7 linked regions of the Homo sapiens genome follow. The protein of the gene in region 1 interacts with the protein of each later gene in a pairwise test. Each region holds a gene or a part of one and is shown in the gene's direction. Other genes may lie near its edges. The genes, in order: MS4A13, EREG, SLC7A1, LRRC3B, GJA8, SSMEM1 and KLRC1.

Evidence for each region.
Region 2: the proteins of MS4A13 (region 1) and EREG interact in binary tests that used the Homo sapiens proteins (3 or more experiments, as listed by UniProt).
Region 3: the proteins of MS4A13 (region 1) and SLC7A1 interact in binary tests that used the Homo sapiens proteins (3 or more experiments, as listed by UniProt).
Region 4: the proteins of MS4A13 (region 1) and LRRC3B interact in binary tests that used the Homo sapiens proteins (3 or more experiments, as listed by UniProt).
Region 5: the proteins of MS4A13 (region 1) and GJA8 interact in binary tests that used the Homo sapiens proteins (3 or more experiments, as listed by UniProt).
Region 6: the proteins of MS4A13 (region 1) and SSMEM1 interact in binary tests that used the Homo sapiens proteins (3 or more experiments, as listed by UniProt).
Region 7: the proteins of MS4A13 (region 1) and KLRC1 interact in binary tests that used the Homo sapiens proteins (3 or more experiments, as listed by UniProt).

What each region holds. Positions count from the first base shown.
Region 1 is NC_000011.10:60,521,892-60,525,391, forward strand, and holds part of MS4A13 (membrane-spanning 4-domains subfamily A member 13), read left to right. Parts: intron 1-2,005; coding exon 2,006-2,062; intron 2,063-3,315; coding exon 3,316-3,435; intron 3,436-3,500. UniProt on the Homo sapiens protein: May be involved in signal transduction as a component of a multimeric receptor complex.
Region 2 is NC_000004.12:74,375,145-74,378,644, forward strand, and holds part of EREG (proepiregulin preproprotein), read left to right. Parts: intron 1-3,500. UniProt on the Homo sapiens protein: Ligand of the EGF receptor/EGFR and ERBB4. Stimulates EGFR and ERBB4 tyrosine phosphorylation.
Region 3 is NC_000013.11:29,519,189-29,522,688, reverse strand, and holds part of SLC7A1 (high affinity cationic amino acid transporter 1), read left to right. Parts: intron 1-232; coding exon 233-372; intron 373-3,139; coding exon 3,140-3,242; intron 3,243-3,500. UniProt on the Homo sapiens protein: High-affinity, low capacity permease involved in the transport of the cationic amino acids (arginine, lysine and ornithine) in non-hepatic tissues.
Region 4 is NC_000003.12:26,625,772-26,629,271, forward strand, and holds part of LRRC3B (leucine-rich repeat-containing protein 3B precursor), read left to right. Parts: intron 1-3,500.
Region 5 is NC_000001.11:147,905,795-147,909,769, forward strand, and holds the end of GJA8 (gap junction alpha-8 protein), read left to right. Parts: intron 1-1,361; exon of another isoform or gene 1,362-2,150; 5' UTR 2,151-2,161; coding exon 2,162-3,463; 3' UTR 3,464-3,475; downstream 3,476-3,975.
Region 6 is NC_000007.14:130,210,860-130,214,101, forward strand, and holds part of SSMEM1 (serine-rich single-pass membrane protein 1), read left to right. Parts: intron 1-2,620; coding exon 2,621-2,675; intron 2,676-3,242.
Region 7 is NC_000012.12:10,447,953-10,450,377, reverse strand, and holds part of KLRC1 (NKG2-A/NKG2-B type II integral membrane protein), read left to right. Parts: intron 1-410; coding exon 411-464; intron 465-989; coding exon 990-1,141; intron 1,142-2,425. UniProt on the Homo sapiens protein: Immune inhibitory receptor involved in self-nonself discrimination.

The sequences.
Region 1 (3,500 bases):
TTGGACTTACAGTTTCTCATGGCTGGGAAGGCCTCACAATTGTGGCAGAAGGCAAGGAGGAGCAAGTCACATCTTACATGAATGGCAGCAGGCAAAGAGAGAGGGCTTGTGCAGGGAAACTCCCATTTTTAAAACCATCAGATCTCATAGGACTTATTCACTATCACAAGAACAGCATGGGAAGGACCCGCTCCCATGATTCAATTATCTCCCACTGGGTCCCGCCCACAACACATGGGAATTATGGAAGCTACAAGATGAGATTTGGGTGGGGACACAGAGCCAAACCATATCAAAAGATCAGACAGATAGATAGATAGATAGATAGATAGATAGATAGATAGATAGATGTATATATATAGATATATACACACATATATATGTATGTGTGTGTTTGTGTGTGTGTGTAAAAATCACCAAATATTAAGTGATGTTGGAGAGAGAATCAGAGAGTCAAAATTTCAATTCATTCGAAAAGAGGAATGGCCAAGGGGTCAATAGATTACTTAAACCATGAAGGATAGTGAGTTATAGAAACTGACATGTGATTCAAAGGTGGAGGAGAAAGAATGGTTGGATAGCAATAATGAGCAAGGAAACCACTTATCCCACACTTCGAACAGATGGAATGAGGGCTGTAGGATACAATATGGCTGCCCATTGAGACAGCAATTAATCACTAGAAGAAACAATGATCTCTAGGAGGTCTCCCACTTTTATACATACACTAATTCATAAGTGTCAATGGATTGCCTTGAAAAAATAGGAGAAAAATATTGAATTTTTGCACAAAATCCAGATAAATGATACATGGTTCATAAAAGATGAATGGCTCATAAATAATGCACTGGTTCATAGGTGATAAATGATAAATGATGCACTGGGTCACAAGTGTCAAAGCACTACCTTAAAAAAGAGGAGAAAAACTGTGGATTTTCCAACAAAATCCAAATAAATGATGCATTTTCCTTAGTGTTTGACCACTCATATTATAAAAATAGTATATTAAACTCCTAGGATAACTTATCTAAAATTTCAACTAAATGTAATTTAATACTAAACTTCTCACTTAAGCCTAAACTTTGAAAGGCATTTTGTAAAACACATAGTAATCGAAAGATAATCTCATTAGAGAGCACTCTAATTCAAAATTCACAAGATATTTTCACTTTAAATTCTGAGCTAGTTCTTACGTTCACTGTGTACCTCCTTAGAAATCTCAGCTTTTGTTGTGGAATGAAGTGCTGAACAAATAGATTTAAAATTATCCATGGGAAGTTTGTAAGCTTCAGGTTTGGGCTTCCTACATATAGTGTATAGCATGACAAAAATAGCCTTTGACTTGGATCTTTAGTGTCTTATCAATAAAACAAATAAGGAATACTTTGAGGAAATTGTGCAACCCATCTTCAAACAATATGGCATAGTTTTATACTTCTTGGAAGTAGACAGACTTCCTGACATGAAATAATGGAACCTCTGTTTTAAAAAACAAAGGCAAAGGCATGAATTTCTGCCATTACCTTAATAATGACTACAATCTCATAAAAGAGACTGCATATTTTGTACCATCACAATATGGAATAGATTCTTGAACCACTTTTTCCATATTTGGATATGTACATAGTAATCATAAGTAGTGTCATCATCTCATTAGGAAGGATAACATTAAAAGCAATAATCAAATGAGTTATATATGATGTATCTCATACACATAAAAGCAAACTTGGTTCCCGGTCAGGACTGCTTAGGCTGTCTGGCATATTATCACAGTGTGAATCTGCCCACTGTCCCCTATGTGTCTCTGTTATGAGTGACTCTACTATTACCTTTCAATGTATTACTACATGATGTAAATTTGTCCTGACCCATCTACTAAAACTTCTGTATATTTTGTTACTATTAGCATTCTTAAAATAATTGACTTACAAGAGAGTTATTAAAAGTACATTCTAAATTGGCAAGCATTATCAATGAGTATTTATAAATATGTTTTTATATCCAGTTTATCATTGCAGGAGTCTTCCTAATAAGAGTAACAAAGTATCCGACTCGATCTGGAGTAAGTTGAAATGTTTGAGGTATCTCTAGAAATCACTTATCACAAAGCTAAATATTAAGTTTTAATGAAAATATAACGTCTAAACAATGAAGGAATCTACCCTACCTGTAAAGTAAATGAAAGAATTAAGAATGAATCTAGAAGAACATAATTTAATATAGACAAATATACTGTATTGGTTAAAATCATGATTACTTTATGTATAGGTTTCTAAATGTATATATAGTTTTTGTTTTGTTTGATGTTCTGCCTTTTAACATTGTGTAAACTTTATAATTAAAAAATTTTAATAGGACCTAATGCCTTTAGATATAGACATTATACTACTGTAAAACTTCATTTTCTGAACTATCCAGTTTGGGAACAAGATTGTGTCCTGTAACAAAGTACAGAATTGGTCCAGATTAAAGATCCATGCATGGTATAGGTGGATAGAATTGGGAAGAACACTTTAGAATCTTAGAGCTAAAACGTACCTTAGAAATTAGTCTGCCCTCATAATTTTACAGATAAAAAAATGATGTCTGAAGATACTGATAGATTTCCTTAGATAATGAAAACCCAGGATTAAAATTTTATCAACTGACTCCTATTTCTACAAGCAGTCATTTTCCACTTTTTTTTTTTTCTTACAGTGGAACCACTTTTGTCCAAATCATATCTTATATGCTTTCTTCCAAATGACCTATAACATTGAAAAACACAATACTTTTTTTTTTTTTTTTTTGAGATGGAGTCTCTCTCTCTCACCCAGGCTGGAGTGCAGTGGCACAATCTCGGCTCACTGCAAGCTCTGCCTCCTGGGTTTACACCATTCTGCCTCAGCCTCCCAAGTAGCTGGGCCTACAGGTGCCCGCCACCAAGCCCGGCTAATTTTTTTGTATTTTTACTAGAGATGGGGTTTCACCGTGTTAGCCAGGATGGTCTCGATCTCCTGACCTCGTGATCCACCCGTCTCGGCCTCCCAAAGTGCTGGGATTACAGGCGTGAGCCACTGCGCCCGGCCCCAAAAAATACAATATGTTTTAGCCTAAATGGAAGATTAATGATTAATGGACTGATGGTGTTAATGTTTCCTCCAGATTAACTGGGCTTCATATAAATCAGAAAAATATTTTCTTAATATTTAATACTTCTAAGACTTCAGAAACTAGATCAAAGTTTTAACTAGATGAGTTTTTTCAGCAATGCAAACTATTACACCAAAATGTTTATTCTGAATATAATAAATTTGCCCTCTGTCTCCTTTTCAGATTATAAGTACTTTAATCATAAACATCATCTGCATAATTACTACAATTACTGCAGTAACTCTAACAATAATAGAGTTGTCTCATTTTAATTCTGTGTCATACAGGAATTATGGACAAGCAGTAAGTGACCAATTCTATGGGAACATATTAATTTTAAAATTATTCTTTTTAATAATTTTGAAATC
Region 2 (3,500 bases), on another chromosome or scaffold:
TCAAGAATGAAAAAGCCAAATATAGTATTTGAGGTCCAATCATAGAGAAATTATGTTCAAACAACACTAAGGTCATGAAAAGCCTGACATTAAGGAAATATATGCATGCTTTAGCATTTATTCCCTCCCTGTATGACTCATTAAAGTAATGACTAGCGATTCTTTTTTTTTTTTTTTTTTTTTTTTTTTTTTGAGAGGGAGTCTTCCTCTGTCGCCCAGGCTGGAGTGCAGTGGCGCGATCTCCGCTCCCTGCAAGCTCCGCCTCCTGGGTTCAAGCCATTCTCCTGCCTCAGCCGCCTGAGTAGCTGGGACTACAGGCGCCCGCCACCATGCCTGGCTAATTTTTTTTTTTTTTTTTGTATTTTTAATAGAGACGGGGTTTTACCGTGTTAGCCAGGATGGTCTCGATATCCTGACCTCGTGATCCGCACGCCTCGGCCTCCCAAAGTGCTGGGATTACAGGCGTGAGCCACCGCGCCCGGCCTGACCAGCGATTCTTAAGGTTAACAGGATAGTGGATGTAATATTTCTCTGGAGATAGATTTTTTATTCATTGGATCGCATTCACTCTTCTACCCTAGTTTGCAAGTGTTTGGGAGCAGACGCATATTGCAGGAACATTTGAGAACCACTATTTTAAAGCAATAGTGCTGTGCAGATGGACATGACTTAGAATTAATTTTGCTGTTTTCTTGGCCACATCCATCCATGATGGAATTGCAGTTATACACTTTAATTTGAAAGGAACATTTAAAATTATATACGATTCCACCTGTAAAATATCCTGCTGTAGGATTAATGCAGCAAGTCTCACAGAAACTATCCTGAGCGATGGACTGTGTCCAAGGGAGCGTCACGAGTAAGGAAAGTCCAGTCTTTGTGGAGGCACACCCTGGGCTGAACATTCTTTAATTAACAAAGACAAACATTTCACCTGTGGCCTGAACAACTGGAACAAAGTTTCCAACGGTGGAAAAACTAACAACTACTAAAAACCTTTAAAAAAGAAGACTAACAGCAACACTCCAAAGTAAGTTGGATTCTATAATAGTTGCAGGTTGCAATTGGAGGCAATTCCAAGCAGGAAAGGTTAGGCTTTAGTTTATGCAAAGGATAGAGAAACTAGCTTCAAATGTGCATTTTTTTCCCCCTGGCTAGCATTTTCCTGGAGGGAGAATTGGTAATGTCTCCTCCAAAGCTTTCCTCAGTTGAAGAAATATGTAGGAATAGGAATGTCAAGGATGTAAGCACGTGCAACTAAAACTCCAATTTGTACCGAGGAAACTGTATTAGTTAAAGGATTTCATTCTTCAGTAGTGAAAGTATGGTGAAATTATTATTGGGATATAAAACAAAATTGACTTGAATGAGAATCTAGCTTATCCTCCATAAAAAGCTTAGTGAAATAGTTTTCAACTCTGTTCAACTGACAATGAAATCTAGGCTTTAGCTATTTCTTTGTCATTCAACAAAAATATATTTTTTGTAGTTCCACAAGAGCAATTGAAGCAGCATTTATATTGTAGAAAAAGCATGGAGTGGGGAGGGGATAATTCTGAACTTTAAAGACAACAGAATTTTCAAATTGTTGAAGAACAGGAGACTTGATTTCAAAAGATAAATTTGTAACTCTTCTCTTCTGTGGTCACAAGTGATCTTAGACAAGACATTTAATTTAAATACACTGAGGGTATTTGAGACTAATAACTACTTCACAGAATTAAGTGTGAAATTTGATATATGAAGTTATACATTATGATGCTGATGCCGATGTGTAATTTACTTTTCAGAACCCAAAAATATACAATCGGCTTAACAGATACAAGCCTTCTCTAACTGAGAAAAAATAAAATTCTTGTATTACACGAATTAAATCTTTCTTTACAGTACCAAATTACAGAGATAGACAAACTTGTTATAAACCAGAAGAGGGCACTGTCCACATACACTGCTAAAACCAGAGGCTAGAAGTTGAGAGTCAAGGAACATTTATGGGCTGTGACAGCCATTTCAGAAAAAAAAAAAAAAAAACATTAGTTTATTTCACTGTATTCTCCCCAAAAATCTATAAGATAGGAAAAATTAACACCCAGAAAAGTAAATTAATTTTTTTTCAAGATCACGTAGCTCAAGTTTTCCTCACAAGACTGCCTTTCCACCATAATTTGTGGCCTCTATGTTGGGTTAAATACTCTACTTCAATTACAGCTATCATAATTTGTTCTCTGTGATGTCCATTATACTCTAGTATTATTGCCTATTTCCAAATTCTATAAAGTGGCCCATTTAACAATATGTATCCTTGGGAAAAGTTATTTAAACTCTTTATGCTTTAGTTTTCTCTAATGGGGATAATAATAGTATCTTCCTCAAATTGGCCCTGAGAGGACTAAATAATATAATACAGATAAGGTGAATAGGACCATACCTGGTTGTATTAGTTTGTTTTCACACTATTATAAAGGACTTCCCTGAGACTGGGTAATTTATAAAGGAAAGAACTTTAATTGACTCACAGTTCTATATGGCTGGGGAAGTCTCAGGAAACTTATCATGGCCGAAGGCGAAGGGGAAGCAAGCCCCTTTTTCACAAGGTGGCAGGAGAGAGAGGCGGGAAGGAGGAACTTCCAAACACTTATAAAACCATCAGATCTCATGAGAACTCACTCACTATCCTGAGAACAGCATGCAGGAAACTACCCGCATTGATTCAATCACCTCCCTCCTTGGACACATGGGGATTACGGGTCCCTCTCTCAATACATGGGGATTGCAATTCCAGATGAGATGTGGGTGGGGACACAGAGCCAAACTATATCACTGGTACATAGTACATGTTCAAGAGATGGATCGTCCTCTGTCTGAACTGTGAAAGAAATGGAAAGTTGAATATATTTTGTTGCCTTTATGGAGGCATTAATCATCCTTTCATAACAGTTACCACTTACTTAGCTACTTCAACGAAACAGGTTGATTCAAACTCTTCCTGTGCTTACAGAAACTGGATTCTCAGTGTGGTTCATCTGGCATGCCTATTCCTTCTCATATTAGATAGGATATATTCTGATTTTACCTAGATTACATTTACCTAGCTGCCTATCAGTCAAGGAGAATTTTCAGGAGTAGGAAGTCATTCTAGTTATCACGCACCCTAGGCCAATAAGCACCGGAATCCAAACGAAAATGTCCAACCGACTAAACAAAATCACATAGGAGGTATTTATTCTCAAAAGACAACCTTTAGGGTGTAGAAAAAGCAAGCTTAACACACATGTCATTATCCCCCACGGTAGGTATTATTCATTTCTTCAAACAAAATATGTCTAATTTTTTTCAAATCTCAGTTCTGAAATTCGTTATTCCCCAAAGCAATTGCAAGCTGAAGCCATTAATTAATTTAGTGGAGCTTAATTGCTGCTACTACTACTACTACCACCACCATTAGTATTTACTATATAACAGTTACTTAAATAAATTGGAAAGAGTGTTTGAAGTGCAAA
Region 3 (3,500 bases), on another chromosome or scaffold:
TAGATGTTCCCTATTCTTTACCTTAATCCTTATTCACAGTGTGTGCTCTTTCTGGGATTGATTTATTAAATGCCAAGTCTTTTAGCCACAGGCCTCACCCAGCGTGGAGGGACGGCAGCTCTTGGTGAGCTCAGACTCCCTCTCCTCCGTGGTAAACCGAGCATGGCTGGATGTGGTGCCTTTATCCCTTATGAGCCAGGTTCACTCACGCGGTTTGCCTCTCCCCATCTAGTCTTCTAGGTTCCATGTTTCCCATGCCTCGGGTTATCTATGCCATGGCTGAGGATGGACTGCTATTTAAATTCTTAGCCAACGTCAATGATAGGACCAAAACACCAATAATCGCCACATTAGCCTCGGGTGCCGTTGCTGGTGAGTACTAGAACTCATTTCACATGGAAATGTTTTAACAATGGAGTCATTACTCCCTAGGGAGACGTCTTGCGCAGTTCTGGTCTGTGAGTAATCTTAACTGGTCTTTTTAACTCCTGGTTTTTATACTTGGAGCCTGGTTCATTGAAAGTTGACTGACCTTTTGACAAAAGGCAGAGGCCCGTTTGACAGAGGATGGGAGAGAATTTTTGAACAGTTTGCACTCTGGTTTTCATCTCAATGGGCGGAGCTTAGAACACACAGTATTCGAAAACCTTTTCTCCCCATTTCTGGACGTTTCCCTGAGTAGTCAAGGGCAGGCTGACACCTTCCTGCATGACACAGGCCAAGGGAGACCTCGCCAGTACCTGGAAATTCGGCGTCCATTTCTGAATTCTCTGGAAAACAAGTGTCCCTTATGATCAGTGTTTTATGAAATGTGCCGCCTCTTCCCCAGAGAGTATCAAGGGTGCTGCTGATGAAGCCACTTGCCCCTAAGTTTATACGTAATAGCAGACCCAGTGGAGTTTCATCTTGTCAGATGAGCCTCATCGCTGAGAGGACCATTTTGATGGATGAAATCAGTGGACTAATCTGAGCCGTGTAGGTGTTCCAGGGCCCCAGATGAAGGAAAGGAGAACCTACAAGGAAGCTCGTGTGCACACTGTACCTGTGGTCTATGTCTCCTCCTTTCGCGATTGCATTTCATAGCCCCGAGAGGCAGACGCCCGCCCCTTTCGCAATTGCATTTCGTAGCCCCAAAAGGCAGACGTCAGCCCACTGTACAGATGTAGAAGTGGAGGCCCAGGGAGGTGAAGCGAGGATGTGCACCCAGGGCGGTGGAGCGGCCTTGTGATTCCAGGGTTGTTTTTATGCCAAAGTAGCCAAGCTCCTTCCAGAGTCTGAGCAGAGCAGTGGGTCTTTTTGGCAAATTAGGGCATGTGAGATCAGTCACAGTTTCTAACACAGCGACTTGTCAAATAGCCATTGGTAAGGCACTTGACCTTCTTAAATGAATGAATTATTCACTAAGTTTTATTAGCATTTATGCCTTTAGCAAACTGTGCTTAGTTTTGTGGATTAATATTGTATAATAAAACACACCTATTTTTAAATTATGAAACATTTTCTTATGTGATTCTATGCTCTTGAGAGTGACCACAGTGGTCAGATTGAGAGGCACTATACATCAGAATGTGACCAGTATATTTACAGGATTAAGGACTTGGAAATAGTCATTGTTTTCTCAGGCTTTACGTGGAATTTGATCATATTAAAGACTGGCCTTAATTTCCTTCCCCTGCTGATAGAGGGAGATCAAATCATGCTCTTTGAAGTGACTGTAAAGTACATGCCATTCACAAAATCCAGGATTTACCCTTTTCATTTGGTGGGAGTGGTAAATAAGTATTTGGTTTTCTAAAATCACCTCACATGGAAGAAATTAGTCTCAAGTTTCCCGTGAGTAGGAACATCGGCATTTGTGGCATGCACAGTTGGGCGCTGTTCTGATTATCCAAAAGGCCCTCCCTCATTGCTCTTTAATTTTGTGTTTTATTCTCCATTTAAATTTGTTTTAGTTGCAGTGATCTAGAGGGGCTTGAGAGATATTTGTGGAAAAATAATGGCTTTGTGTTTATATTTTAGCTTGTGTTGATTGCATGTGTTTTGAAAATATCCCAAAGCAGATGTAGCCAAGTTGTTTTTTAATGAGTACTTGACATACACACCCATGTGAATAGACACGTATACTCTCACAACGCTCACAAAAGATGTTCAAATAAGGGTGCAGGTTTTAATTCATTTTAAAGGCAAGGGACACAGTGAAGGGGCTGATACTATATTGTTTGAGAACAACTCTTCAGATTTCTTCCACGTGAAGTGACTTCACATGTGAAGAACTCTGCTCTCCTGCCCGCCTGCCTGGGTTAGGACCTCCTGTGAGTCCTCCCAGAGCACCAGACTTGCCCTTCTTTATCACCCAGCACTGTTGTCCACTAATGCCTGTGTCTTGGTGGGGTACACTCAGGAAGGCTGGGGACTGTGGTCTGCCCTGTTCAATAGTGAGTACCTAGAACCCAATGATGGGCACACTCTGACCGGAGCTGGATGGATGGAAGATGGGTAGATGGATAGATGCTGAATGGATGGATGGGTGGATCGGATGGATGAATGGATGGATGGATAGATAGATGGATGAGATGGATGGGAGATGGGCAGATGGATGAGATGGATTGATGGATGGATGGTGAGTGGATGAATGGAAGATAGGTGGACAGATGGATTGATGGAGAATGGATGGACCGATAGGATGGATGATGGATGGATGCACATGAGTCTGTGAATCAGCATGGTCTAGAGGAAGACACACAGGACTCAGAGTCATAAGAACCCAGTTCACATCCTTATACCCTATGCTTGTGAACTGTGTGACCTTAGATGAGTCTCCTAACCTTTGTGAATGTTTATATCTATAATGTAGGGATGGCTTACAAAGTTGCCATTAAAATCACAAGAATGAAGGGATTCTCTATACAAATGTTAATGATGATTACTGTCTGTTGAGGACTGTGTCTGTGATTTAATCACAAGCTTAAAGGGAAGCTTGACTTCCCTTTAAGCTGTGTCTTTCCATGGGAAGGCCAGGGAGGGGGTGGGAGTAAAAGCAGCCCCCTTCGCTGCCCTGGATGGTGGGCGGCAGTGGTGGTCCTGGTTGTCATTGCATGCAGATGGCCCTCCACAGATCCTGGTGTCTGTCTCTTCCCAGCTGTGATGGCCTTCCTCTTTGACCTGAAGGACTTGGTGGACCTCATGTCCATTGGCACTCTCCTGGCTTACTCGTTGGTGGCTGCCTGTGTGTTGGTCTTACGGTATGTATGGCTTTTGGGGGTCTCATGACAGAAATGCAGATGCACCTGGTAGCCTTTTCACAGTTCAGCTATGGTTTATGTGATGAATGAAACTTTTAGGTTGGTGATAGCTCCATTGGGAGCTGCCAAGGAGAGGGGAGGACCTGGGTTGAGAGCCCAGTTAGGAGGACGTCCTTGGCAAGAGTTGGGTGGCCCCTCACCCCCCTCTATCATGTGCCCTCATTTTTATGGCTAAATGTTGGGTGGATAGAGACAGAT
Region 4 (3,500 bases), on another chromosome or scaffold:
GGAGTTCTTACTATGTGCCAGACACTATCTTTGATGTTGTGTGTGTTTGTGTTAGATTTAACCCTCACAACAACCCTGAAAAATGGGTAGAGTTATTTATCTCATGTTATAGATGGAGAAACCCAGTATTGAAGAATTCAAGTTATTTGCTTATTGACATTCAGCCAGGAAATGGTGGGGCTGAGTGGTCTGGTGATCAGAGAACACTGAGTGTGTCCCATACTCCCAGCCCTATTTGGTACTAAAAACCATTTGTCTGGAAGGAAGCATGAGTGAGGCCCCTCACCCTTTACTCCAAACTGCAGCGGCGTACTATAAGTGCCAGTCCTGGCCTGTGAGCCCCTGTGACTAGAGTATTAGGGAGACTGATGTTACATATCGCCTGTCTCAAAGTTTGTTGGGGTACACCTTGGTATAGTGGAATACTAGTAGAGGAAATCGATTTGGAGAACTGGCTACTGGTAATGGACTTCTCTTCTGAACCTTTTGTAGACATTCCCTTTTTAAATAGGAAGGTAAATGGAAGGAGGGATCCAAATATGAACAGAGATTTGCTCTGTAGTCAAAAACTAGAGGCAGTTTTATGTAGCAGTTGTATTCTGCAAATGAAAGCCTCTCTCTGAATTGAGTCACATAATTAGTTAGAGCTAAGAGGGATCTCAGATATTATCCCACCCAATCCAGACTCAGGGAGGAGATTCAATGCTGAGCTCAAGGCCATTTGGTGCATTTGTAGCATAACTAATGCTGGAACCACTGCCTTTTGACCCTTGCTCAAATATGGTACCATTATACATAAATAAATTATGCTCACTCCTGCTGTTTTTTTAACATCTTAAAATTAATTAGGAAAAGGCTTTTTATTTTTAAAAAGACTGTTTTGCTTATTTTCGTATAAATGCTTCTCAATCAGCATAACCAGAAAAACTCTATATCATATATAATGAATAAGCTACCACAAATGTGACTCTTTTTGCAAAAATAAAACATTGCAGAATATTTGTAAGCCTTCAAATCAACAAAAATTAACTATGCAAACCTCTGGATGATTCTAAATAAGATTAAATGATTTCTAATGATTTTAGCAGTCTTCTGTTAGATTGAGTTGCTTCATCCTTCTGCACTCCCAGGTATTTGTGAAAATAACAGGGAATTTTTCCTATCACAGGAAACATTCTTTTGAATACAGTGGCATAAATTCTTGGATTTCTCCTGGATTCTTGACTTTTCATTAAAGTTTATGCTGATGTAAAGCTGAGGCAAAACAATATATTTCTGTACTTGGGGCTCAGAAAGAGGAAAAATAGTTCTTTGTCACTTCCGATAATATTTGCCACTTCCTCGCCTACCTGGCCCCTTCAACAAAGGGGACTTTCTGCAGTCACTTGAGGATTTCATATACCTTTAAGCGTTTTTGTGGGACAAAGTTCTAGTTTCCAAGAACACCTCATGTCTTTTCTCTGTAGCTGTAGTACCAGGATGTCCTCCCCTTGGAGACAAACCAACAAAAAGTCAGCCAGGGTAAACAGGGAGGAGGGATAGAAGAATCCTGTTTTTCAGAATCAGATCAGCGGGGCAAGAGTCATAGACAGATAGTGGAAACCTGGTGCCTTTTAGGTCACCTGGAATAGGATTTCCATCTCTAATGCTGTGGCACACTAGGACCTAGGCCATCCTATAGTGAGGACCTAGGCCATCCTATAGTGGAGGAAGAAAAGAAGAGAGTGAGGCAACAATATTGTCAGAGGAGGGATGAGGTGGAGGAAGATGGAGGTGAGGCTTGGCTGCTGAGGCACCCAAGTGTGACCAAAATGCCCACAGAGAGCCAACGTGCACTAAGAGCTGCTCCTCCTCTTCCTTTTTTTCCTACCCTCGACCTCAGTCTGCGTTTTGTGTCAGGTTGACTGTTCTGAATCCCCAAGACCCCAGTTATCTCAAGGAGAAGCATTCATTTTCCGGAGAATTCATTAGAAGTCAATTTTGTTTTTATGCAAGTAGGAAAAACTTGCACAGCTGCCCCACTCTTCAGGAAGAGCCATTCAAAACCAGATCATCCAGAAGGGTGACCTTCTGGAGGTGGGGATACCGGCTTAGTTGAGTTGCAGCAGTGTTAAAGAAAAGAGACATAACACTGAAGTTAAGTGTGACAATATCCAAAAGAAATGGTCTATGTCCTAGGAACCACAGGAAGGGGAATCCTTTGGAACCTGGGCAGACATTCTGGTTTCCAATTCCCAGTTTATTCAGGGGAGCTCTATCCTCATCTTACTTATGTGGTCCAATCCCCTCTACTTATTTTACTGTGGCTGCTAGGTGGTGCAATATCAAAAGTCCCACATGACACGTCTGCTGGGGAGATTCTTTGGGGTGTACCTTTATCTTAAATCATATAAATATGAGTTCATTGACATTTAGAATAACAATTATTATTAAGCAATATGCTCTAAGACAAAGGATATGGAAAAATAAAAACTTTTATTCAGAACACAATGAATAGATATGTTTATACAATACATAGTATGAGTTAAAAGTCTTGGGTAAGATATTTGAAAAAAAATAATCAAGATTCGGAATATCTGATCTTGATTAATTTTAATAGCAAGAGAAGCTAAATAATAAGGTTCTGTAGAAAGAGTTTGAAGAAGATACTGGAAAAAAAAAAAAAAAAGCTCAGAGTAGGACCTGAGAAGCTTTACCCTTATTGATTTTATTTAAAAAAATATAAAATATCTTAATCTATATTTAGATTTGAATAATCCATAAGATTAATAAATTTTGTATTCATTTTATTATCTGAAGATTGTGACTTTGATGAACTTTATTTGATAAATGGTTTGGAGCCATGATGGAAGCTCTGAGATGTTAGTATATATCTACATATACTTTATAAAAACTTAGTGAATTAATACATCTCAACATGATAATGACATATGAAATGGCCATTTCATATGAGAATGAAATCTGGAATCTTCTCAAAAGCTGATAGGCTTGAACATACTATTTCTCCACCACAGGTGGTAAGTTAATAGTAAGGGCCATTTAGTTCTTTCAAAATAGATAAATGAGTAAATACTAAAAAAAAAAAAAAAAAATCCTCCACAAATAAAAACAGATTTTATTCTTTAGGAGGATAAATGAACAGATTAGGAAAGGTTATGAAATTTACAGTTTCATTTGATCCTAAGCTCTCTAAGCTACCTTTTATGTTAATACTTGTCCAGTGCAAATGTCACTACCTTTTCAGACAGTTTAAAAAATGCTTTAGGTGCCTTTTATTAGAAATAAAATGGAAACAAATATTATTTAAAAATGTGAAGCTATTCTCAACCATGGAGTAATATTTGACAAAGTGGTAAGTATGTTTTCAAATACAGATTAGTTTCCTTTTATTCTCTTTTCCTCCTCTACCCCTCCCCCTCCCTCCCTGCGTCCTTCCTTCCTTCCCTCCCTCACTCCCTCCCACTCTTCCTCCCTTCCTTCCTTTCTTCCTTTCTTCCCTT
Region 5 (3,975 bases), on another chromosome or scaffold:
CGAGCTGCTGGGTCCTTCCCCCTCTCCATTACCCATTTCTCCAAGGAACTCTTCCCAATGCCAGACCCATGACTGGGGATGCCACAGCTGCTGTCACTTTTTCAGGAGAAGAGAAGCTGCTGCAGGATGCCCTGCCTGATTGGGAGCTTATGAGGCCTCAAGAGGAGGAGCACTCTCTGCTCTCCCACAAGAAGCGAACAGCTATTGTGCCTGCCCTGACAGCACAGGCTGGACATTGCAGATGCCTGCAATTAGTATCCTGCCACCAGGTTCTGTCTGGCCAGACTCCAAATCACAGGTTGGAAATAGGCTTTTGTGTTTAACAAATATCACTGTGATTAAAAAACAATAGGCATATCCCTTTAGCCCCATAGGTTCCTAGGCCTATAGCATGGGGCATGGCTAGAAGAAGCCCAGAGCAAGATCCTCTAACATGGGCTCTTGCCCTGGTCTGAGGGCAGTGATGAGTAAACTTATAACTCTAGAGATGTTCAAGCTGCAGGAACAACTGTTCTCCATTGAGGTGGAAGTTTTGCTCATCATTCTTTATAGGTTACAGGTTTGCACTGGATGAATGACCCAGTTGCAGCCAGCCCCTTGTCAGCTCAATGCCATTTCCATTAGCCATTGCTGTGCTACAGGCATTATATACTATCATGTTTAACGATATTTTTTCTATAGACCAAATTTTTGACTCTATTAAAACAGCCATATGTTACAGACCCTGAAACATTTTCATTCCATAGGACACTAAAAGTGTCCTAGAAGACCTTCCTCATCCTGTGACATGATTCCTTCCCAAAGCATTCTCTCTGTTCTTTGGATTTAAAAGAGTAATAATAAAAATATACGGCCCTCAATGTGTAAAGCTATTAATAAGGGTTTCCAGATTTCAACCTAGAGAAGAGGAAACATAAATTAAGAGCACAGAAGTCAAAGAATTGTGTAGCTTTGATTGCAGGCAGTTTATCTCAATGGTGTAGTGGGAAGAACCCAGCCTTTGTGATCAAGCAAACAGAACTGCTGCTATTTAGCTGTCTAATCTTGGACAATATATTTAGCCTCTCTGAGCCTCAGATTTCTTTTTTCTTTTTTTTCTTTTTCCTTTGAGACAGGGTCTTTCTCTGTTGCCCAGGATGGAGTATAGTGGCACATATCAGGGTTCACTGCAACCTCGACCTCCCAGGCTCAAGCAATCTTCCTGGCTCAGCCTCCCAAGTAGCTGGGAACACAGGCATGCACCACCGAGCCCAGCTAGTTTTTAAAGTTTTTTGTAGAGATGGGGTCTCACTGTGTTGCCCAGGCTAGTCTCTATCTCCTGGGCTCAAGTGATTCTCTTGCCCTGGCCTCCCAAAGTTCTAGGATTACAGGCATGAGCCACTGTGCCTGGCCTTCAGTTTTCTTATTTGTTGGAATCAACTTAGTTAACAAATACTTATCAAGTTCTCACTGTGTGCTGGGCTGTATGTCAGGCATTGAGTATATAGCTGTAAATAAGACAGGCATGGCTCCTACCGTCATGGAAATTACAGTCTAGCAGGATCAAGTTAAATGAAATAATATAATGTCAAAGTTCTTTCACAAAGTTGGTATTCAATAAATGCTAATCCCCTTCCACTTCCCTTCAAATATACGATCATTATATATTCTGACACTCAAACATAAGATGGCCACAGACAATTTCATACATACAAGAATTGTGTTGGGAGCCCAGACACCCATAGTATAAGGGAACTCTTCAGCATTATGTCTCACGAAACTTAGATCAGTGTGTGGTCTTGATTTAAATCCATGTAACCAAGGGTTTCTATTTATGGTCAACAATGAATCCTTATTTTTGGTGGACTTTAAGGAATTATACAAATATTGCCTCATTGATGCTTTCAGACCATTTGTGAAGTGAATGAGAATAGGTATTATTATTATTAAACCCATTTTACAGATGAGGAAGCGGATGGAAGCACATTCTTCGGGGCCTTCTTTGTTCTCTAGTCCTAGTCTGCACAAAGGAAGCACTGGATAGACGCTGTGTGCACATTGACCGTTCTGGCAACTTGGAAAGGAGAGGTACCCCGCGTTAGCAAAAACAGATATTGACTCAGGGTTGCATTGCGGCCGCTCAGCTCTTGCCTTCTCCCTCATTTCTTCAGGTGGGTGAGAAATGGGCGACTGGAGTTTCCTGGGGAACATCTTGGAGGAGGTGAATGAGCACTCCACCGTCATCGGCAGAGTCTGGCTCACCGTGCTTTTCATCTTCCGGATCCTCATCCTTGGCACGGCCGCAGAGTTCGTGTGGGGGGATGAGCAATCCGACTTCGTGTGCAACACCCAGCAGCCTGGCTGCGAGAACGTCTGCTACGACGAGGCCTTTCCCATCTCCCACATTCGCCTCTGGGTGCTGCAGATCATCTTCGTCTCCACCCCGTCCCTGATGTACGTGGGGCACGCGGTGCACTACGTCCGCATGGAGGAGAAGCGCAAAAGCCGCGAGGCGGAGGAGCTGGGCCAGCAGGCGGGGACTAACGGCGGCCCGGACCAGGGCAGCGTCAAGAAGAGCAGCGGCAGCAAAGGCACTAAGAAGTTCCGGCTGGAGGGGACCCTGCTGAGGACCTACATCTGCCACATCATCTTCAAGACCCTCTTTGAAGTGGGCTTCATCGTGGGCCACTACTTCCTGTACGGGTTCCGGATCCTGCCTCTGTACCGCTGCAGCCGGTGGCCCTGCCCCAATGTGGTGGACTGCTTCGTGTCCCGGCCCACGGAGAAAACCATCTTCATCCTGTTCATGTTGTCTGTGGCCTCTGTGTCCCTATTCCTCAACGTGATGGAGTTGGGCCACCTGGGCCTGAAGGGGATCCGGTCTGCCTTGAAGAGGCCTGTAGAGCAGCCCCTGGGGGAGATTCCTGAGAAATCCCTCCACTCCATTGCTGTCTCCTCCATCCAGAAAGCCAAGGGCTATCAGCTCCTAGAAGAAGAGAAAATCGTTTCCCACTATTTCCCCTTGACCGAGGTTGGGATGGTGGAGACCAGCCCACTGCCTGCCAAGCCTTTCAATCAGTTCGAGGAGAAGATCAGCACAGGACCCCTGGGGGACTTGTCCCGGGGCTACCAAGAGACACTGCCTTCCTACGCTCAGGTGGGGGCACAAGAAGTGGAGGGCGAGGGGCCGCCTGCAGAGGAGGGAGCCGAACCCGAGGTGGGAGAGAAGAAGGAGGAAGCAGAGAGGCTGACCACGGAGGAGCAGGAGAAGGTGGCCGTGCCAGAGGGGGAGAAAGTAGAGACCCCCGGAGTGGATAAGGAGGGTGAAAAAGAAGAGCCGCAGTCGGAGAAGGTGTCAAAGCAAGGGCTGCCAGCTGAGAAGACACCTTCACTCTGTCCAGAGCTGACAACAGATGATGCCAGACCCCTGAGCAGGCTAAGCAAAGCCAGCAGCCGAGCCAGGTCAGACGATCTAACCGTATGAAGTGACGCCAAAGAAAAAAAAAAAAACGCCCAAGCTTACGTAGGGCAAGATGAAAGGAACAGGTGCCAACATGATCTGAATCTTCTGTCTCCTGTCCTCCCACCAGCCTCTGGTTGGACAGGCACTGCAGCAGGGCAGTGCACTCCAGGCAACTCTAGGAAACAGTCTTTCCCACATCCAGCATAAGGGCTACCAAGATAAACCCATCGACCCACTAAAGTTCCCCAGTCTCATAGGACTACCCCGCTCCTCCAACCCCAGCAGCTATGGGTGACTCTTCTTTCATCCCCATTTCTCCATAGAAACCCTTAAATCGGAATTGGGGTTGCCTCATAGCCTTTTACCCATCTTGTCTCAAGCTCACTAAGCCAGAATCTATCATCCCAGCATTTCTGAAGCAGATACCATGTGACCATATTTCAGGGATCCAGACTCAAAAGCCTACAGAATACAGACAGGTGACATAAGTTGCAAGACAGGCCTGTTCTAATGCAAGGGAGAGAATGGGGCTG
Region 6 (3,242 bases), on another chromosome or scaffold:
CTGTGGAAATGATATAAGCCTAATAAGTGTTTTTAAATACCTTCTCCTGTCTATTACAAAAGTACACATTATATAGAAAATGTGGAAATTATAGGGCAGAAGACAAAATAAAATAAAAATCACTCCAGATTATGTAGAAATAACCAACTACTGTTAACTTTTAGGTTTATAAACTTCCAATTATTTTGATTTTCTTTACATATATTAAATTTATTTTTTTCCTTTTCTATAACCTAAGTGATACATATTAAATTTAAAATATTTAAGCCTCTTCCAAAAGCATTTTTTATAAAGTGGTATCTTTTTTTTTTTTTTTTTGAGACAGAGTCTCGCTGTCACCCAAGCTGGAGTGCAGTGGTGCAATCTCTGCTCACTGCAAGCTCCGCCTCTCAGGTTCACACCATTCTCCTGCCTCAGCCTCCTGAGTAGCTGGGACTACAGGCACCCACCACCACACCCGGCTAATTTTTTTTGTATTTTAAGTAGAGACAGGGTTTCACCGTGTTAGCCAGGATGGTCTCGATCTCCTGACCTTGTGATCTGCCCGCCTCAGCCTCCCAAAGTGCTGGGATTACAGGCATGAGCCACCGTGTCTGGCCAGAAAGTGGTATCTTAAAAGTGAACTCCGCTTTCAAGATTTTTGGAGAATGATTGCTGTAACCCAGAAAACAAAAAGGCACCTCATTAAAGATGCTTGCCTACCATTGCAGAGATCAGATATTAAGAATGAGCTGAGGATCTTAGATTGCAGTTATAAATACCGAACTATGGCACTTTTCATCCCAAAGAAACTGGACTTCCACATAAACTCATTTTTTTCCTAATTGTAGACAATTTGAAAAAATTAGAAGAGAAAAAGTCCATTTCACCACTTAAAGCCAACCATAGCTATCACTTTTATATGCTCCTTAAAGTCTTTTTTTTCATATTTTAAGCTAATTTGTCGCTCAAGCTGTATATACAAATTTGCATCTTGATGTTTAACCCAGTATGGTAGCACACTTATTTCCTCATGTTATGACATACTTTTATTATAATAATTTTACAACTGTTTATTATATAATTGTACCATAATTTACTTAAACCATTGTCTACTTTTGAATTTTCTATTATCCTAATTATACTGTGATGAATGTTTCTGTGGACAAAGCTTTCTTTCTTCTGAGGGTTATTTCTTGCTGATAGATTCCTGGAGAGAGAATTATATGTCAAAGGTGTTAATGAAAATTTCTAGTTTTTGTTATTTTCTGAAAGAGTTGGTTTATATCTGTGTCTTTTGGCAAAATCACTTTCAGCATTAGAAAGTGGGACACTAATCTGAAAAATGGGACAAATATATTTATGGAGTATTGGGGGGCAGAATATTTGAAATTGAAACTATTCAAAGAAATCCATTTCTTTTGGTTGCTGTATTCACAAATAATATATCATGATTACATTTTGGAGGAAACTTTCGGAGGGATTAAGGAGATATTAAGTTCATGAATTCGGTAAAGATCTTTGTGTATGGTAGATGTCTTCTGTCTTAAAGAACTATCAGTAATGTACCCTGATCAAGTGTCCTTTAAGAACTAAACTAATCTGGGCCAGGCGCGGTGGCTTACATCCGTAATCCCAGCACTTTGGGAGGCTGAGGCAGGTGGATCACCTGAGATCAGGAGTTCGAGACCAGCCTTTTCAACATGGAGAAACCCTGTCTCTACTAAAAATACAAAATTAGCCGGGCGTGGTGGTGCATGTCGGTAATCCCAGCTACTCGGGAGGCTGAGACGGGAGAATCACTTGAACCTGGGAGGCGGAGATTTCAGTGAGCTGAGATCGCACCATTGTACTCTAGCCTGGGCATACAGAGCAAGACTCCGTCTCAAAAAAAAAACAAAAACAAAAACAAAAAAACAAAACAAAAAAACAACAACTAAACTAATCTGAGTACTATCAAATTTTTTAAAAACACTACTTCTCTGTAATGTAAATGGGTACAGGAAAGCTTTATAAGCTATAGCTCCTTGTCAGTGTTATTTTCTCTCAAGTCTGTTCCATTTTGTTTGGTCCAAAACATTTTGGTAGATGCTGCTATCAAAGCATAGTCTTAATGGGAAGTGGAAGTAGGATCACTATAACAGGAACTCAATACATACTGAATTAGCTTATTATTTAACTCAGTAAGTACTTGTTTAAACTGAATGTTTAAAATTAGACATTGTCAGGCCAGGCCCAGTGGCTCATACCTGTAATCCCAGCACTTTCGGAGGCCAAGGTGGGCAGATCACTTGAGGTCAGGAGTTCAAGACCAGCCTGGCCAACATGGTGAAACCCTGTCTCTACTAAAAATACAAAAATTAGCCGGGCGTGGTAGCGGGCACCTGTAATCCCAGCTACTTGGGAGGCCGAGGCAGGAGAATCACTTGAACCCGGAAGATAGAGGTTGCAGTGAGCTGAGATCATGCCACTGCACTCCAGCCTGGGCAACAGAGTGAGACTCTCCAAAAATAAATAAATAAAATAATAAAAAAATAAAACCAGACATTATAAATGGGCCTCAGCAATAGTGTTTTATAACAAGTACATATTATCAAAAAACAACTGAGATCACTCTTACTAACCTATGTTTCTGAAACAGATGTCTGAGGATAAAAAGGATGAAGGCAGTGGGACAAGTACTTCAGTAAGGAAAGGTGAGAACCAGTGCATATTTGGTGTTGGACTATGAGGGGAAGAATATGTGTGGTGTTGCATGCCTGTAGTCCCAGCTACTCAGAAGGCTGAGGCAGGAGGATTGCTTGAGCTAAGCAGTTCAAGACCACAGCTTGAGAACATAGTGAGACCCAGTACCAAAAAAAAAAAAAAAAAAAAAAGAAAAGAAAAGAAAAAGAAAAAAAGAAAAATGAAATAAAGACAAAGAAAGAAATTTGTGCTGAGTGTGGAAAGCAAAAAACAGAGATGAACAGCCAACAGCATTGTAAGACTTTGCACACTAGAGGAGGCCCATTGGGGTTGGGTGAGTTTTTGCTTTGGACTCCCTAGTGCAGAGGGACAGTTTAGCTGCTTAGCAAGAAGCTATGAATTACTGGGAGGTGGAACTCAAGTTCTTTTTTCACTCCTTAGCTCTCTCCCTTCACATTGCTTGCCCTTCCCACATCCTCATGGTTAGTGCTATTACAGGATTATGAACTGTCTATGACATCTTTTTCAATAACCTATAAGCAGTGGTGCACTGGTAAATGTTTAACAACTGGTTCTCC
Region 7 (2,425 bases), on another chromosome or scaffold:
TATTTGGACTAAATGTGGAATGATTATTCTGAATTTGTCAAAGAATAAATGAAAGAATAATTGTTGAAAGTATTCGCTTCTGATGCAATCGTATGTATATATTTGGATTTCATAACTCAAAAATATGTTCTAGGAGTCTGAAAAACCTTACTGAGAAATAGAAATTAATTTTTGAAAGTAGTTAAATCAAGAATTATAAGAACTATATGAGATGGTGAAATTTGGTTCTTTAGATCTATGAAATACTTTTCCAAAAAACCACCATTACTTTATCAAATTTTTCTTAAAATCAATTTTATTCCATATTATTCTAACTCTAAATAATACAAAAAAATTCAAACAAAAACTTAAAATTATTATGATTGATTTAGATGCTAATTTTTTTACAAAGATTACTTTAATTTTTCTAGCTACATTAATACAGAGGCACAACAATTCTTCCCTGAATACAAGAACTCAGAAAGGTATATAATAATTTTTAAAGTTTTAATATTGTACAGTTTATTTTTTCTTGATCTTAGGCTGTACAAAAATAAAATTTTGGGTGAAAAATTATAAAATTTGGCAATAAGTGTTCATAAATAAAATTAGAGTAAGGCATTCACTTGTCATCAACTATAAGTAAAATCACTATGCTTTCTTTTTATCTGTTGTGTTCAAATTCTTACTGCTATAATATGATAAGATACAAGTTATTTATTGTTCCTTAAAAATCAGATTAGTTCATTGATTTTTCAAGACATGTATAGAGTGGATTTTTGTTTGCTGGTTTGCTTTATATGGGAACACAATTAGGAGATGAAAGGCTGACCCTTTATTGCGCATGTGTGTATAAGTGACTGGGTATTTTGACACTATATATTTACCAGCCCATGAAGATGTATAGATATGTTGCATACGTATAGGTTTATATGTTTGCAAATATGTGAACTAATTTTCATTTTTAAAAATTCATATTGGTCTAGATAGTAATTCATATCTTTATTTAGCACGTCATTGTGGCCATTGTCCTGAGGAGTGGATTACATATTCCAACAGTTGTTACTACATTGGTAAGGAAAGAAGAACTTGGGAAGAGAGTTTGCTGGCCTGTACTTCGAAGAACTCCAGTCTGCTTTCTATAGATAATGAAGAAGAAATGGTAAGATGTAAATGTTTTAAACACTTTATGAAAAGCTTCTTTCGGTCGATAATATATTTGTAGAAATCATCCATATGTGTGGGTATATACATTTAGCTTATATGTTTTCAAGTTTATGTAGTATTTAATTGATTGACTTAATAATGTTTTAAAATTCATATACTGCTAATGTACTTTTGATTATTTTCAGTTTTTGCTTTTCATGGAAAACCATGCTTCTAGAAATGCTTTCAATCCACAATACATTTTGCTATCTAATTTTATCGGGCATGATGTGATCTGGTCATGCAGATTGATCACAAAGTGAATGAACTCCTGTGATACAAGTCAGATCATGAAATAAAAGTTTCCAGCTCTAGTAGTTCCACCCCTGTGTATGCCCTCATCACTTATCCTGACTCCTCTCCAAAACACTGTCTTGACTTTTAATGTTATAAATAACGTTTACCTGCTTTTGAATTTATATAAAGGGAATCATACACTGTGAATTTCATGTCTGTGTTTTTCACTCCTATCTGATATTTATGCAATTCCTCCATATTATTGCGGTTATCTGTCGTTTATTACTGTTCACTGCTGTAGTATGTACAAAGAACACTAAGAATCCATTCAATCCTGTGTCTCTGGATGGGGAAGTGAGTCTCATGCCCTCAGGGACAAAGAGGACCCTGGGTGGTGCACTGGTAGTCATTGGGTTCCTTTGCTGATCCTCCTCACCCACATCCACTCTGGTGTCTCTTGGTATGAGAAGGAAGTACTTCCTCTGGCTGTATTGGTAGCAAGTCTCCTGGTAGATCATCCTTGCCAGTGGTACCAGCCTTGCCTGTTGTTGCGGAGGGGACTCCCCTTCAATACAGAACAGGAGTGAGCTTTGCTGGGCCTCCTCCTATTGCCAGGTTGGGTGTAGGGAAACAGCAGGCCTAGGTCACCTTCTTCTGTCGTGTGGAGGACTTAACATGCTCGCTCGGACACTTGGTTGATCCCTGATGCTAGGGTCCCAGACAATTTCATCTTTCTCTTTCCACCTTTCAGAGTTCTCCATTGCTTTTGTCTTTCATTAATCCCAGAGTTTATAGTTGTTTTTAGTAGGGAGTAGCAGAGAGAGACGAGTCTACACCACCTGGTCAGGATCACTGTTATTCCACCAAAACCAAATCAGATAAAAAAGTGAGGGCTTATCTAGTTAAAGAATGGTGTGGTACCCAGAAAACCCAATATGTAGCTTCCATGTCATTTATTTCTGAATCACAACCTCTAATTTCTCTTCTAAATCTCCAACTCTGA